Homo sapiens: one gene and its partners. The protein of the gene in region 1 purifies or fractionates together with the protein of each later gene. This does not show direct contact. Each region holds a gene or a part of one and is shown on either strand. Other genes may lie near its edges. The genes, in order: KLK13, TIGAR and LDLRAP1.

The links.
Region 2: the proteins of KLK13 (region 1) and TIGAR purify together in Homo sapiens (affinity purification with mass spectrometry; one large-scale study listed by BioGRID and IntAct). This does not show direct contact.
Region 3: the proteins of KLK13 (region 1) and LDLRAP1 purify together in Homo sapiens (affinity purification with mass spectrometry; one large-scale study listed by BioGRID and IntAct). This does not show direct contact.

Annotation. Positions count from the first base shown.
Region 1 is NC_000019.10:51,062,223-51,066,610, reverse strand, and holds the start of KLK13 (kallikrein-13 isoform 1 precursor), read left to right. Parts: upstream 1-1,518; 5' UTR 1,519-1,543; coding exon 1,544-1,595; intron 1,596-1,691; exon of another isoform or gene 1,692-2,013; intron 2,014-2,749; exon of another isoform or gene 2,750-3,025; intron 3,026-4,388.
Region 2 is NC_000012.12:4,327,569-4,331,214, reverse strand, and holds part of TIGAR (fructose-2,6-bisphosphatase TIGAR), read right to left. Parts: intron 1-3,646.
Region 3 is NC_000001.11:25,560,537-25,564,182, reverse strand, and holds part of LDLRAP1 (low density lipoprotein receptor adapter protein 1), read right to left. Parts: intron 1,540-3,646; coding exon 1,467-1,539; intron 1,114-1,466; coding exon 1,030-1,113; intron 523-1,029; coding exon 392-522; intron 1-391. UniProt on the Homo sapiens protein: Adapter protein (clathrin-associated sorting protein (CLASP)) required for efficient endocytosis of the LDL receptor (LDLR) in polarized cells such as hepatocytes and lymphocytes, but not in non-polarized cells (fibroblasts).

The DNA of each region.
Region 1 (4,388 bases):
CCTAATCCTGTCCCCTCCACCCCCTAGGATTAACTCAGGGCTCCACCCAGTCATAGTTCCTGGAGACACCTACTCATTCTCAAAACACCACCCCTTCCTCCTTCCTCTCCCCCACCCCCAATCCACGTCTTCAAAGCTTTCCGGCTCCTGCTTTTTCCTCTCCACCTAGGTCCCCGTGGACTCCCTCACCCCCTCTGGCCCTGCTCCTAAAAGGCCATTTCTGGAAAATGTTGCTTTCTCAGGTCGCATCTCTGCCCCCATCCAAGTCCGAGGGAGCTGATTTTCTATCCACCCAGCTGATGATTTCCTTCTTGTGTCCGGTGGTTGGCGGGAGCAGGGAGGCAGGATGATGGGATAATTGTGGGTGTCCTTGTGTCTTTCAAAAGAAAAAGGGTTGAGATGAGACTGGGAATTGGAACCTGGATGTGTTGAGAGCTAAACCTGAGATGAGGTTGGAGATGGGACTGGGGTTGAGGAACAGGCTGGAGTACTTGGTATGGTTAGGGATGGATAGGGAGGTGGGAATCTGATAGAACACGGCCATCTGGGGGCTGACTGCCTATTAAGAATTATGCATGGGGTTGGAGAAGAGGTTAGAAAACTGGGTGCAGAATGGGTTGAAGTTAGGGATGGGCATGGAACTCAGCGGGGTAGGGGGAAGGAAATGGGCTTTCCCCTTACCCTTTTTTGGGTCCTGAGGCCTGAAAGTTCACAGTGGGTTCAACTCTGCCTTGGGCGGGGTCAGACCTAGGTCCCAGCACGTCCTGGAAGCTCCGCCCCAAGCAGAGGGCCAAGCCCAGGTCGGGGGTGCCTGGAGACATCCCGCTGAGCCACTGGGGGTGGAGAGGGGGAGGCCAGGGACCAGGAAATGCTGAGTGAGCTGGGGGAGGGAGTTCAGGGGTTAAAAGCCATGGTTCGGGGCTGAAGTTCTAGACAGCTGGCGGCTGACGCTCCTCGTGGGCCCCTCACTCAGGTAGGGTCTGCCTGGGGCGGGGGCGGGGAGCGGAGGAGGGCAGGGAGGGGAGAGAAGAGGGGATAGGAAGGATGGGGAAAGCAGAAGGGCAGCTGAGTCAGGGAGAGGGAGAGTGAAGCTAGAGTCTCAGATCTAGAGAGAAACCTGCAGAGACGGAGAGAGGCGAAGGGCGCGGACAGATAAGAACTTGGGCTAATACCAAGCGTGTGGACAGACCCAGAGGGGTAGAATGGAAGGCAGACTCTGGAGGAAAAGGGCGAGAGTGCACCGACCACCCAGCTCGCCAGAGGGCAGGGGAGGAGGGACGGCTTCCTGGGGTGAGGGGCTGCACGCCGGAGCCCCAGGAGGTTGCACACTGTTCCTCCCACCTCGCCACTGCACCCCCACCAAGGATGGAATTGGAGGCGGGGGGCAGATTCCAGGGTCAGGGCTGTCAAGAGTGAATGAGGCGAGGAGACATTCAGGAGCAGAGAGGTTTCAGACGCGGAGGTTCCGGGCACGCCCTCAACACCCCCTTCACCTTCTCCTCAGGCCCCGCCCGCCCTGCCCTCCCCTCCCGATCCCGGAGCCATGTGGCCCCTGGCCCTAGTGATCGCCTCCCTGACCTTGGCCTTGTCAGGAGGTAAGAATGCGCGGGGGTGGAGGCGCGGCGGCCATTCGGGACAATGGTAGGAGGGGTCAGGCCGGAGGGGGAGGGGGCGTGGGAGCCGCGAGCTCCGCCCCCCGCCCACTCGGGGCCGGGTCCAGTGGGGACAGCTCAGAGCTCTTCCTGCTTGTCCCTGGGTGACCTGGTTTCCCGGCTGAGGTTGGCCCTCCGACCCCAGACCCTTCACCTCCCAAAATACCCTCGCAGCAGCCCCTCCCGCGTTCAAGGCTTCCTGTCCTCTCTGGAAAGCTGAAAGACATGGGTTCGCGTCCTGACGCTGCCGCTTTGAGCCAGTAGCCTAGCAGCTGCTTTGTGCCTAAATTGTTTTCATCTGGAAAATGGGCTTAATCTATAAGTGCTTACCAGAGAAGGTCACTGTGAATATTGAAACGAGGTAATGCGTCGAGCCTTCAGTATGTCGCAGGTAGAAGGGACTTGAAAGTTAGCCACTTAGCCGTTATTACTTTATTAGTAGTATTCCTTTTTTTTTTTTTTTTTTTTTTTGAGATGGAACCTTGCTCTGTCTCCCAGGCTGGAAGGCAGTGGCACGATCTTGGCTTACTGAAACCTCCGCCTCCCGGGTTGAAGCGATTCTCCTGCCTCAGCCTCCCGAGTAGCTGGGATTACAGGCGCCCGCCACCACGCCCAACTAATTTTTGTATTTTCAGCAGAGACGGGGTTTCGCCATGTTGGTTAGGCTGGTCTCGAACTTCTAACTTCAAGTAGCCCGCGTCAGCCTCCCAAAGTGCCAGGATTACAGGCATGAGCCACCGAGCCCGGCCTCTAGTATTCTGTCTTCATACTCAGCCCCTTCCAGAACCTTCTAGATTGTTATTTTAATCCTTGGGTTGACCCCAAACCTATGTGACCTCACCCCAAATTGGTAGTCCTTAAGATCCTTATGGATCTTTCCCATCTTTCCCTGCCGTTGTAGGCAGGTTCTCTGGAAACCCCGTTCATGAATCATTTATTCATTCAACAAACAGCTATTAAACACCGGCCACTGTGCTGGGTGCTGTACAAGCAGAGACACAGTCCCTGCTCTCAGCACCTGGAGTCTAGCGGGGACAGACGCAGATGTTATTCAAACAATTATCCAAATAATTAGTTAATAATTATCTTGACATGAGGTGAAGACTTCAAGGAGCCAAGCCAGGGGCCTAGAGATGTAATGGCGGCTTCCCGACCAGAGGCCTTCCCAAAGGGCTTGACCCTTGAGCCAAGACCTGAAAAAGGAGGGATCTGTGGGTGCCTGGCACCTGGCACCATCCTTGGCCTGAAGGTGGGGTGGCTTTTCTCCTCTGGCGACACTCCCTGGATTCATGCCCGTGCCACTCCTGAGTGCCACACCCTAGGCTAGGAGACCCACACGCTACGCCTTGTGGAGTCCTCAACAACCTGGCGAGGTAGGTGCATTGTAATTACTCCAATTTCATGGCAGAGAAACCTAGGACTCAAAGACAGAAGGCTCCTGCTCCAATGACACCGGCGATGCCTGAGTCAGAATCCTAATCAAGGTTGTTTTCCCTGTCCATATCCTGGACTTGAGGCTCTGAAAACCATTTTTATAACTTTTGACCTAATCATTTGCTTAAAGTTAGCTTTTTTTCTTCTTTTTTCACTCAAACAAAAGCATGTTCAACTTTATATTACTGTCCTGAATAGAGAATAGAATTCTTTGTCATAAATAGAAGGTAAGGAAGGAAATAAATCCTGCACAATGAAAAGAAAATAATATGTTTATTGGGTTGGACCACCTGAAATTGCTGATACTTGACCCTTTTTGACCTTCCTAAAACAACTTTTGCAGATGGTTCAGTGTAATAAATGTTAGGTGGCCTGATGAGGCTTCTGTGTCCTCCTGGCTTTGAAAAGTGAGCTCAGTGAGGATTAGGGAGGTGTTAAAACCATATTAGCACCATCCTGAGACTTTATCCTTGACAAAATCAGGTTTAAAAGAGAACTGGATGCTGGTTCAGCGTCTGAGTGTGCGATTTAACGTTACTTAAATCTCATCTCTCTACCATCTAAAATGATCCTGTGCTCACCGACAACTTCTGTCCCTAACTGCAAACCACTGAGCTAATCCAACTGCTTGCCCTGTAGTTGGGGAAACTAGCTAGGGAGGCAGAGGGACCTCCTGTTGTAGCTAATAATTAATAATAACATTTCCCACTGACTGAGTGCTCTCCATGCCACCTGCTGTGCTGCACGGTTTGAAATGCAGGATCATCTTGAATTCTTCAACTGCGCAATGAGAGATGAACTATTACTTTTTCTACTTGACAGCTGGGGAAACTGAGGCTGGTGATTTGCATAAGGTCACACAGTCACAAAATGGCATGCATGTTCAGGATTGGATTCTCCCTGTCCCACGGACCCCTGCTGTGCTTTCAATGCCAGACACAGTGCCTGGCACACACAGCATTTATTTATTGAGCCCCCATTGTGTGCCAGGCGCTGTGTTAGGTCCTGGGAATATGGTACTGAATAAAGCAGTTAAGGTGCCTGTTGTCAATGGAGCTTACAGTCAAAGTGGAGAGATTTTTAAAAACGAATACATACAAATGTGAAGAGAAATGAATAGCAATCATTGTTCTGATGAAGACCAACTGGAAGAATGTAATGGGGGAGGAGTCGGGACCAGGAGAGTCAACATTAGACCAGGTGGTCAGGGAAGGCCTTTCTGAAGAGGAGACATTTGAGCTGACCTCTCAGAATTAAGAAGGACCCAGACATACAACCTCTAAATTCTGAGGGTCATCCAGT
Region 2 (3,646 bases), on another chromosome or scaffold:
ATGAGCAATCAAGTGTGGTGATACTCTAAAAATATCATGTGAAACTTGTAACACACTTCATAATCCAACCTGTAAAAACAATTTATTCTAAACTAATATTTGCAATTGTCTTCTTTAATGAAGAGCTAAGAATTTCAAACTACTCCAAACTAAAACGTGTAGATCAGGAACCAATCTTAAGTGAATTGCAGGTGGAAAATCCTACTAAAAAATATAATGCAAATAACATTTCAGCCAAATAATTTTGTTAAAAGAAATATATTGATCAAAACTACTCTTACTGGCAGCAGGAACAAAAACGTGAGAGTCAGTCTATTCATTGCTGGACTGAATGAGCAAGTGAAAGAGAATCTGAATGGAATGGGAGAGACGTGCACAAACCTTCAGAACCCCCTGCCTTCTCTTAGTTCCTAGGTCTTCAGCAGTTATTTTTTGTAGTACTGACAGCTATCTCGCAGACCAACTAACTGCACACTGAACTGAGGTTTGAGTACTACACTTTTAAAAACTAAAATACCAAAACAAATCAAAGCAATCTGAACCAACCGGAAGGGTAAAAGAACTGGAAACTTTGTCAGAAAATAACTGGGGTTACTGAGGCTGGAGGGGGAAAAGGGCGGGAAGTGCATGGGCAAGACTGGACAGACAGCAGGATAGGTTAACAATAATGCAACTTTCAAATACATGAAAAGTAGAATCAAAGAGAATTCAGCTGAAATTTCTTTGAGCACTAATTAAATGTTTGCTGACCCAACCTACCACTAGAATTGCTGGGCCATAAGGTATGCAAATACCAGCTTTATTAGGTAATGCCAGTGTCATAGCAGGTTACACCACCCTGTAGTGTGGTGTACCACCCTCAACAAGATTCAGTGATGGAAGGTTTCTTCAATTTGTACCAATCTGGTACCTGAACAATTCATCTCACTTTAATTTTAATTTGCATTTCCTTGATTTCGATGGAAAATGATCGCTCCATTGTTTTTAAGTGAAGCACTAGTTTATAATAATTAAAATGTCACATAGGACTGATTTACTCAGATCTAGAAAAAAAAATCTACCAGACCTGGAAGTCAGAATCACAAACTCAGGCCTCATCCTGGAATCTTGCCGCTTGTTTACAAAAACAGCTGTATGCCAACCTCTGCCAAGATACAGATTGCTGGATTTGGCCAATATGAATGTTCTTTAAGACCCAACACAAGACTGGTTCTTTTAGGTAGTCTCCCTCCCCAGTACCATTCCCCATCTACCTACTCTATTTAATACCCACACTCTATACTCCCATGGTCCCCTGGCACTACCAACATAAGTTTTCATCTGTGTGCTAATTGACTTTTTAGCTCTGTGTCTATCCTGGCTCCAGTTCCTTAAAGGCACAAGCAGGGATTGCATACCCTCAACATGCCCAGGGCCTGGAGAAAATGCTGGGAAATGACAGAACTTCAGTGAATGTGCTTTTACCTAGGGAGGGTCATCTGGAAATACCTATCAAAATGACAAATCTGTTTACCCTTTTATCCAATAACCCAATTACTGGGAATAACTGAATTCACTCATATTTAAAAGATTATTTGTGGCCAGACGTGGTGGCTCATGCCCGTAATTCCAGCACATTGGGAGTCCGAGGTGGGTAGATCACGATGTCAGGAGTTCAAGCCCAGCATGGCCAAGATGATGAAACCCCATCTCTACTAAAAATACAAAATTTAGCCATGCGTGGTGGCGGGCGTCTGTAATCCCAGCTACTCGGGAGACTGAGGCACAAGAATTGTTTAAACCCGGGAGGCAGAGGTTGCAGTGAGCTGCAATCACACCACTGCACTCCAGTATGGGTGAGAGAGCAAGACCCTGTCTCACAAAAAAAAAAAAAAAAAAAAAAAAAAGATCATTAGCTACAGTATTATTTCTAATAGCAACAGATTATAAACAACCCAAATGTCCATAACTCATTCCTTAACTATGGCCAGAATAACCATTATTTATATTAACAAATAAACAGTGACATATCTACCTAATGGAATCCTATGTAAATGTGTCCTTTAAAGAGAGAGATTATATGTAAAGATATGGAATGCTCACCAAGATATATGATTAAGTAGAAAAAGCAGGGTATAGAGTAATATAAAAAGAAAGCTACCCTTTTAGAAAGGAGGGAAATAAACATCTGGATCTGCACAAAGAAACAATGGAAGGATAAACATGAAACTAATAAATGTGGCCACCTATTGGTTGGGGGAAGAATAGGAAGACTACGGAGAATTGTTTTGATTTCTAAATATGTAGATGTATTAGCTTAAAAAATAAACGTATGATAAAGAAATAAAATTACACAGAACTGGCCAGGCACGGTGGCTCACGCCTGTAATCCCAGCACTTTGGGAGGCCGAGGTGGGCAGATCACGAGGTCAGGAGTTCGGGACCAGCCTGGCCAACAAGGTGAAACTCCGTCTCTGATAAAAATACAAAAATCAGCCAGGCATGGTGGTGAGTGCCTGTAGTCCCAGCTACTCGGGAGGCTGAGGCAGAAGAATCGCTTGAACCTGGGAGGTGGAGGTTGCAGTGAGCCAAGATCATGCCACTGCACTTCAGCCTGGGCAACAGAGCAAGACTCTGTCTCCAAAAAAAAAAAAAAATACATGGAACTATTTATACCTTGGTAAAAAACCAACAGCACTGATTTGCCATTATCATTGTTGTTAATATTAATAAAAGATTACCTAGGCCACATGCAGTGGCTCATGCCTGTAATCCCAGCACTTTGGGAGGCCAAGGAGGGCAGATCACCTGAGGTCAGGAGTCCGAGACCATCCTGGCCAACATGGTAGAATCCTGTGTCTACTAAAAATACAAAAATTAGCCAGGCGTGGTGGCAGGCACCTGTAATCCCAGCTATTCGGGAGGCTGAGGCAGGAGAATGACTTGAACCCAGGAGGTGGAGGTTGCAGTGAGCCAAGATCATGCCATTGCACTCCAGCCTGGGCGACAAAAGCAAGACCTCATCTCAAAAAAAAAGATTTCCTACACTCCAAAATTCATTCAGAATCTTATAAAATGGGCATGAAAGAGGATATTAGCCTCTACCATTCAGATGGATAAAGCAGAAGCATTCAGGGCAAACATGGGGAACCTGTCATTTTTAATCTAGAAAATAGTTACCATGTATTGGATTCACTTCCTGTCTCAGCCTCAAAATCTTGCTGAGACCAAGAATAAAATATCTGTTATTTCAATATAAGTAACATCCTCGGCTGGGCGCGGTGGCTCATGCCTGTAATCCCAGCACTTTGGGAGGCCGAAGCAGGCGGATCATGAGGTCAGGAGTTTGAGACCAGCCTGGCCAATATGGTGAAACCCCGTCTCTACCAAAAATACAAAAATTAGCTGGGCGTGGTGGTGTGTGCCTGTAGTCCCAGCGACTCGGGAGGCTGAGGCAGAAGAATCGCTTGAACCCAGGAGGCGGAGGCTGCAGTGAGCCGAGATTGCGCCCTCAAAAACAAAACAAAACAAGTAACATCCTCGCTAGACAGTGGCTTGTAGCCCTTAATTTAAACCTGGCCTAAAACTGCCTCCATGCCTAGGGAGCTGTCACCTAACTTAATATGCACACAAACTACAACATAATTTGAGAGTATATTCCTGTAAT
Region 3 (3,646 bases), on another chromosome or scaffold:
AGTCAGGGACCAAGCTGGTGACTGCCCAAGTCTCTGGGTCCTCATTCAGGCGGCTGAGGGGGAGGGGTGGTAGGAGCGAGCTCTGCCACACCAAGAACAAGGGCGCCTTTGGCTGGTCTTGTGGTGGGCAGAGCCGTGGACGCTCAGGCCAAGAGGCCAAGCATTGTGAGGAGACAGCTGTGCTGGGAGCCAAGCCTGTTGGGGATGCAGCCTCAGGTTCAAAAGGGACATTGTTCATCCCCTATCCTGCGCCTGGGCACTACCGGGCTGGGTCTGGTCCTCCCAGAGGCCCACAAGTCACGGGTCCCAGGGCCTGGTCCCTGGAGCAGCCCCAGGCTCACCCAGAGGTCAGGCTGAGGATCACCGATCTGCTGGCCACACAACCACTCACCCAGACAACACTGCTGCCACTCAAGGCTTGTGGCCGCGGCACCTCGTCCATGTTGGTGGTGTTGGCGCTGACCGTGGACAGCGGGGCCTTAGCTGTCTCCTCTAAGTCCAGCAGGTTCCCAGTGGCGACCACTGTGAGGGATCCGGTCAGGTTGTCAGTGGGAGATCAGCCTCTTCCTTCCTGGCCCCCTCCCTGGGCTGTCCTGGCCCTGACCCTCCCCTCTGATGTGGCCTTGCCCAGGCCTCCCAGCAGAGCCCGGCCCTGGCACCTCCCCACAGCAGATGCGCAGCTGCCCACAGAGTGAGAACCTGACTAATGGCTTAGACTGAAACTTTTGTATTCACAATAGTTAAGTTTTCTTAAGCAACCACACAATACTATGTTAAGTATATAGAAAGATAGACGCATATTTATATATTTGCATAGGGACATATCTAGAAGAAAATGTACTAAAATGAGTTATTTCTTCCCCTTATCTACATTTTCTAATTGATCTGTAATGAACGTGTATTATTTATTTAACAAAACACAAGTGAAAAACCAAGAGGCTCTCCCAGCCCAGGCAGGAGTGGGACCCCCCTGGGTGAAGCGCAACCCCAACACCGCATGGCCAATCCCCCTTCCCCGTCAGGACTCACAGCTCTTCAAGGAGGGGGTGCAGTCTTGGCGGGCCCCCAGGACGTCCCCTCCCTCTTGGCTGGCTTTGTCCCTCTTCTCTTTCTCTGCAGGACCAAGGCACAACATGTTGGAGCCTCAGACCCCAGCACTCTGTCCCCAGCAATCACCGGGCAGGGGTGATTAGCGGTGGCCAACCTCAAGGGGCAGTTTCAGGTTTCCAGCCGGGAGGAAAGAAACCTTTCGGATGTCAGTTAATCCTCACAAGCACCTTTGGGGAGGGAGACGGCTGTTCCCATTTTTCAGATGGGAAAACCGAGACTCTGAGCGGTGAAGGGACCTGCTCACAGTCACAAGCCAGGTGGGTGATGAGGCAGGAAGTCGGTCCAGGTCTGACCCCAGGGCCTTTATGTGTCTCCCCACCTCCCACCACACCCACAATGTAGATGCAAAGTCTCACCTTCCTTGGACACCTGCCAAAACTCAAAGGCGACTTTGAAGGCCTGGGCTACGGTGAGGGTAACAGCCTGTGCCTGAAAACAGGAAGTGGGGATGGGGAGGGGTGCAGTGTCAGCCAGGGCAGAGCAAGTCTGCACTGGAGGGCTGGGGCCTCCAGGCCAGGCCCCCTGGCTCCCTCCCTGCAGCTTCTGCAGCTCCATCCCAGGCTCTGGAATGCCTGCTGGGCAGAGCAGGGTCCTGGCCCTTCCCAGGTCTCCAAAGCAGCCTGGGGTGTCATAAGGCCATAGCCTCGCAGAGGCAGTAGAGTCCCCATCTTTACTATCTCTGGCCCCACCAAAGTTCTCACTCTCACTCTAGGGCCCCTGCCTGCAAAGGCTGTTCTTCTCCAGGTCTTTTCCTTCCCCTTTGGGCTTCCCTGAATTCAATGAACTGTGAGGCTTACTTCCTCCAAGAAACCCTCCCTAATTACCTGTGGACTTAGCCCTTGGAATTGGAGAACAGAAAAGCCAGAATTGGAAGGGCCCAGCCATTGCCCCAAATGAGCCACAGCCAGAGAGGTGAAAGTTAGGTTCCGGTTGGGACCATAACTGGATCCCACAAAGAGAGTAGAAGGCTTGTCAATTTCCTGATAGGAGCAAGATGTCAATGAAGGCCCGGGGACCAAAACCGGTCAGTGCTATAACCCACCTGTAAGGAAGGGCCACACCTCGGCCCTTCACCCCAGGGGAACTCTCCCTCACCCCTCCAAACCCAACTCAGATGTCACCACCTCTCCTGTCACCAGTCCCAGACTCCTCGAGCCCCACCCACCTCCCTCTGGCACTATGCATGTGAAAGTGTCACTGGCTCCCCTGCCTGTGTTTCCCCCAGCTTTGTGCACCCTAAAAGCAAGAATCAATCTGAACACCCCTGCCCTCGGGAGCAGGCCAAAGCCTCCCAGAGGTGGCAACAATGCTGGGTGAATTACATTCACCTGAGGTGCAGGCCTCATTCCACCCAGGACCTATCCCCAGCCCATATTCATCTCAACACCTTCCTCTCTCAGCCATTCCAGTCCAGGGTTAATCAGCTCAGCTTCTGGGAGTGGAAGTCCCAGAGTTCGTAGCTATAGCCGGAAACATCTAGCTTCCTTCTGAAGCCCTGGCTGAGAGAAGAAAGCACCAGCCTCTTTCAAGTCTACAAGTTCAGGCCTCACCAGCCTCAGCCCCGCTCCCTGCCCTCCCCCAGACAACTCAATTTAATTGAGAAATGGACCTGTGGCCACTGCCTTTAAAACTCCTTTTAAAAAAATATTTAAAATTCCTAAACAAACTGACTGATCCGTGCCAATTACACTTCACGAAAGTATAAAACCTCATTTGAATGTCTCCAACATTTACATTTTTGATGGAAGTACAGGCACTTTATGGCAAAACTTAAATATGGTAATTAAGTATGAAACTCTTCGCAGCTGTTTACAATTTAAGCTGTCATATCTGAATCAAGTTTAATAGACCCAGTTACCATTGAGAATTGCCCATGAACTAAAAATATGGGCTAATTACCAGCCCAAGTCAGATCACTATCCACCCAAGCAAGGGCTGGACACCCAATGTGGCAGGGATATGAAAACGCCATTATTTAAGCCTGCTGGAAATCTGGAGACACAAGCTTAGACTGTAGTTGCATAAATCTGATTGTTCACTTGCATACATTCCTACCTTTTTGCCCTGAAGTCCCAAGCTGTAAGTTAAACTGAATACAACCCAAGAGGTGGATGTGTGCAGGTAGCTGCAAGCCCAGGCTGGGCAGGGACTGGGAGTGGGGTGGGCCCTGCTTCCTGGGGTGGCTGCAGGGATCCGAGGACCAGCATTAGGTGGAGGGACTGCTCAGGCCTGCCCAGGCGGGATGCCCACCCCTCCTGACTGCCTCTGGCCTTCGGGTCTGCCTTATTATCCTGAGTGGATGCTACCTTGCCCAGTTTTTCACATTCCTTGTTCCCAGGAACCAGGCTGCTCATGGCTCAAAAGGGGCCAGAAACTCAAACCAAGACAGCCACATGCCCCCCAGCAGCCCTGCTGCCCCAGAAGCAAAAACCTTGCACAAGGATCACTCCAAGATGCCAATGGTCATGGGGGAGGGAGCAGCCTGGCCCCGTGCTGCCTGGGTGGAAATGGGGGTAGCACTTTGCTTACCATCAGC